Regions from separate parts of the Homo sapiens genome. Here region 2 is linked to region 1. A link means that fine-mapping ties the variant in region 1 to the expression of a gene that starts in the linked region. Tissue or cell type: whole blood. Region 1 holds a variant in brackets; the other region holds the start of a gene. All regions are shown on one strand. Distances are from middle to middle.

Region 1 (2,764 bases):
AATTTTTTCTATTTTTAGTAGAGACAGGGTTTCACTTTGTTGGCCAGGCTGGTCTTGAACTCCTGGCCTCAAGTGATCTACCTGCCTCAGCCTCCCGAAGTGCTGGGATTACAGGTGTGAGCCACGGCACCTGGTCAGATTTTGCATTTCTAACAAGTTTCCTGGGTGATGCCCACACTGCTGGCCAGCAGACCACACTTTGAGCAGCAAGACTTTAGAACTTCCATTTGGACCAGATACCCCATAGCCTGTGTCATGGGTGATGTTACCTGGTGTATCCGCTGGGGCCTCAGCTTGGCTGGAACAGAAGGCTGGGACTGAACCTGAGAAACAAAGTTAGAGAAGGTTTATCAAGAGGGCTGTGAGGTGAGAGGTGTCTTTTATTCTGTGAGAGTCAAATGAGAAGGGGAGAGACTTCTGGGACATAGACAGGGAAAAGGCTTCAGGAAGGAGGATGAACCCTGATGAGAAGCCAGGCCTATGTGAAGGGGTGGCCAGAGTCTAGGGCTACTTTCTGCAGAGGTGGAGGCTCTGGAGCTTCCTGCCATCCCTCCAGAAGAGAGAGCTCCTCTGCCATAGCCACTGATCAGAGTAGTTTGCCTGCAATTCAGTAATTCTTCCAGGGACCCCATGTGTTCTACCCATTCTGCTCTTTTTGGCTACTACTTCATTTCCACTCCAATACTGGGATTCTAGAGGAGCTGCCAATCATAATAGTGTATCTTCTTGGCTATAGAAATTGGTCCAAGCAGCAGCCACATGACCTTAACTTGGGCCAATCAGAGCTATTTCTGACATTCTTTAAATTGGAGTTAGAGGGAAGCACATTTTCTTCCCTGTCTGGTGTCGGAGCTGTTAGTATGTGTGGGTCTGGAGCTGCCAGCTGTTGTGTTGTGGTACACTCCTCCCCTCGCTCCCACCCCTTCCCTCAGCGGGCTGCAGTAGGAAGAGTTAAGCTGACTCAAAATACACAGTAGAGATGAAAGGTGGAGAGCTCTGATGACTTTTGAGCCTCTGGTGACATTTCTCCATTATGCCAGCTCTATCCCTGCCTTCCCCACAGATTGATTATTTAAGTGAAAAAATAATAAATCACTCTCCCTGCTCCCACATGCCTTTTTTTTTCTGTCTAAGCCAGTTTGAACTGGGCTTCTATTATTTGTGAGTAAAGAGTCCCAACTGACACCCCTCCCCCATTGCTCTGAGAAGAAATAAGATGCTGGCAGGGAGGGGTAGCACGGGATTGTGTGAGGGCAGAGAAGCCTCCACAAGTCCCAGGGAAATGGCCTAGCACTGGCGGACAACATTGATCTCGGAAACTCACACCGTCCTTTTC[G/A]CTTCCAAATGCACCAGCTGAAGATCCCAACGCACAGAAGGCAAACCATCAGGAACAACCCAATCCAAAGCTTTGTGTTTCTCTCAGGTCCTTTGAGGAGGAAATGAGTGATGTTAATTCAAATAATGACAAGACACACTGGAGCAAACAATGCACAGAACATGATGGCCATCCTACCTGCCCCTTAAAATCCATGACGTTGTGGAAAGTCTTTCTTTTCATTCATTCTACAACCATTTTTCGAGCAAGCATTACTCTAGGCAAGAGGTTATAGCAGTACCTGAGGCAGACAGTCCCTGGGTAGAGAGGTTTACGGCTTGCCCAGTGTCACAGTGTTTCAAGTGTCTGACCTGAGGTTCGAGTGCAGATCCTACAGCGCCCTTAATCGCCACATTACACTGCCCCGCTGTAAATGATATGAGGGGAGTTCCAGATTCCTGTTAAGCTGGACTCTAGATCTGTCTGCCAGACACAATCTGACCCAACATTGTCAGATCCTGGGTAGACCGTACCTTTTTTCTGCTTCCTTCTACGGAAGAGCAGAAGATAGAGCTCAGGGTTCGAAACCAGCTTTTATGGTGTGACCTTGGATAAGTCCCTTATCTTTTCTGAGCCTCAGTTTCTTTATCCATATAAAGGGGAAAAACGAGAATATCTACTCTGTAGGATTGTTGCGAAGATTGTGCAAAAATGCCTGAAGGCCTAGAATAGTACTTAGCATTTATTAAGGGCCACTGGGGCTTCTTTTCTAGCTCCCACTCACGCAGCCTTTGTTCCTGTGTGGTCCACATCCCTTTCCATATCAGCTTCCTATTGGCTTTTCTCCACAAGCCTGTAACTCTGTGCTGTTCAATATGGTAGCCACAAGCTATGCATAAGCCCTTGAAGTGTGGCTAGTATTACTGAGACACCAAATTGCTTCTTTTATTTAGTTTTAGTTTAAATTTAAAAATGGCTACTCAATTCCTTCTTGAAAAACTGATAAATATGCTTGGAATAACTTGGGTGCATAAATCTATTTTTTCAACTGTAAATTTTACGAAGTCTGAATATAGATTAAACACTTTCAGTGAAAATTTAGCATCGGAATCGAGACGTGCTCTAAGTGTAAAATACATACTGGCTCTCAAAGACTTAGTACAAAATAAAATGTAGTGTCTAATGAATTTTTTTGTATTGAATACACGTTGAATAATGATATTTTGGATATATTCAGTTAAATAAAACATATTATTAAAATAACTTTATTTCTTCTTGCTTTTTCTAACGTGGCTATTAGAACATTAAAATCACATGCGTGACTCTCATATATCTGTGGAAGCATGCCACTCTAAAGGGCTCTCACCCACAGCCTCTTACTGCACTTCATAAAGAATCAGTCAGGATGCAAACTCTTGGAGGCCCCAAGGTCCTGTGACCTGAGTAAAT
Region 2 (2,618 bases), 22 kb after region 1:
TGCACCATCATCCCTGAAGCCCTGGAGAAAGCGGGAGCACAGAAGGACAGTAGCTGCCACAGTCCCAGGTGGCTGAGATCCTCTCTGGGGTACTGGATTGGCTCTATCTGCTGGACAGTGGGGTTCCGGGCCATGCAGCGGAGAGATGTTTCCCAGGAGTTGGGCCTTGATAGGGAGGAATAAGGTTGAGGAGAAAAGGATATCCAGATAAACGCCACCTTGCCCATGGTCACCTAACCGCGTCCAGGTCCCCAGTGAAACCTCAGTAATAAAGCCAGCATATATGATAACCAAGGCAGGATACATAGAAAGAAGCTCCAGAAGTTCTCTCCATCCCTAGGAAATTGCTAGGTGGCTTCTCATCAGGGGATTTTCCTGGATCCCTCTGTGGGTTTTATCCACACCATACAGGGAACAAACTCATTATATACTTGGCATTTCTTAGGAAAATGTGAGGGCAAGAGAAATGTAGTTTGAGCCCAGAGCTATTTGAGACCGGGGCTAGAATGTTACCCCCTTCATAGTGCACGAATATGCACACATGCAAAGTAATTTCTGGCAAGGAGATGAGTTTCCCGATTTTACCAACAAGAACTGGGCTCACGCCTGTAATCCCAGCACTTCAGGTGGCTGAGCTGGGCAGATCACGAGGTCAAGAGATCGAGACCACCGTGGCCAACATAGTGAAACCCTGCCCCTACTAAAAATACAAAGATTAGCTGGGTGTGTTGGCATGCACCTGTAATCCCAGCTACTCAAGAGGCTGAGGTAGGAGAATCGCTTGAACCCAGGAGGTGGAGGTTGCAGTGAGCCGAGATTGCGCCACTTCACTCCAGCCTGGCAACAGAGTGAGACTCCGTTAAAAAAAACAAAAAACAAAAAAAAGAATCTCCCAGGCAGGGAATGCAACTGGCCTCAGAAGAACCGCAGTAGCAAGAAGTGGTGGCCATAAAGTGGACTTACCCATGAGCAGGAAGAGGAGAGAGGTCTGTAGAACAGAAGAGAATATTTGCAGCTGACTCCTCTGTGGCTTACTGGAGAAAGGCCCAGGAGCCCAGTCATCTGTGTGACTCTTTGGTGCCACCATGATGATCTATTTTCAGAACTGAGACTGAAGGAGGATGCACTTACCACAGCTTCCGCACGTGTCACAGCTTCTGCATGTGTATATGAGTGTGTGTGTGCATGTGTATGTGTATGTGTGTGTGTCTCAGAGGGAGGGTTGTTTATACAAAACACCACAGACTCCTCCCATCTGCGCAGGCAGGTAGAGGTCCCAAGTCTATTCAGGGCCTCATTTGTGACTGATGTGGAGCATCACTTGCTTTGACATCAAGGGACTTGGGTTCTAAATTTGGCTCCTAAAGGTGACTGCTAAAGATCTGTACCTCCTGGCATTCATGCCTCTGTGTAATCACCTCTTCTTTAGTGTGGCCTGGATTTAGTGACTTGCTTCAAGTGAATAGAATGTGGCAGAGATGTGGGATGGGTCACTTCTGAGATTAGGTTACAAAAAAGCTGTGACTTCCATCTTGGGTTAGCATGTGTGTGCATATGCGCTCTCTCTTTCTCTTGCCCTCTCTCCCTCTCTGTCTTTCCCACTATCTCTGTCTCCCTACCTTACACTGAGGGGAGCCAGGTATTGTTTTGTGAGATACTTTAGGGAGAGGGTTCCAAAACAAAGAACAGAGGGAGGCCCCCAGCCAACAATCGGCGAGGAGCTGATTCCTCTGGCCAACTGTCCATGAGGACTGAGGCTAGCCAAGAATCACATGAGTGAGACTGGAAGTGGATCCTCCCCAGGAGGTCCTTGAAATGACTGCAGCCCTGGCTGACACCGTGATGTTAGTTGTGTGAGTACCTTAAGCCAGAGGCACCCAGCTAAGCCATGCCCAGATTCCTTATCAAGAGAAACTGTGAGATAATAAATGTTTGGTTTTTAAATTTTTTTTCAATTTTTTATTTTTCATCAAAAATGCTTATTGTTTTTAGCTGTGAAGTTTGGGGCAATTTGTTACACAGCAACAGATAACTAATACAGTGACCCAATACATTTTCTATTTTGCTCAAGGCAGTTTGTGCTAGCTTTCTGTCACATGCAATGAAGGACTTTTAATATGGACAAAGGCATCAGGGAGACTGCAATGGGGGTGGACATCGTATGTGACAGCGTAGAGGTGACTGAGTTGAAAAGGTAGGCTGGAGAATGGCATGATTCCCTATATCCTGACTTGGGAAACTGTCTTTTTCTCCTCCTTCTTCTTGTCAGTAGCGTAATAGCTGGCCATGCTATGGTTTGTGTTTCGGGCTTCAGGTCATTTGTTTACTTAGGCTGTAACATTAAGGGGACTTGGCAGGAAAACTTGAGGCTGGCAGAATGTGTAGTTTTAGCTAATATTCGATGAAAGCTTACAGAGTGCTAGTCCATCTTCTGACACTTTAACATATTCACTCATTTGATCTTACAATAGTTTTATGAGATATCTTTTATCATCCCCATTCTATAAATGAGAAAACTGAGGTGGAGAGGGGTTAAATAGCTTACTATAAGTTTTATAGTTAGTAAGGACTTGAACCCAGGAAGTCTGGGTTCAAAGGAAGAAGGGAGAGAGAGAGAG

The links. PIP is the estimated chance that this variant, and not a neighbour inherited with it, causes the effect.
Region 2: it holds the start of LY9, and the variant in region 1 is fine-mapped to the expression of LY9 in whole blood (TOPMed, PIP above 0.99).

What each region holds. Positions count from the first base shown.
Region 1 is chr1:160,816,880-160,819,643 of GRCh38, reverse strand. It overlaps LY9 (lymphocyte antigen 9), which reads right to left. Exons shown (of 10, transcript NM_002348.4): 6 at 1,325-1,426; 7 at 270-323. Among named protein-coding and RNA genes, the nearest start is that of LY9, 22 kb to the right of the region's middle. The variant G/A (reference allele first, on the strand shown) is at 1,337.
Region 2 is chr1:160,794,657-160,797,274 of GRCh38, reverse strand. LY9 (lymphocyte antigen 9) reads right to left here and starts at 1,101. Exons shown (of 10, transcript NM_002348.4): 1 at 964-1,101. The coding sequence starts at 1,087.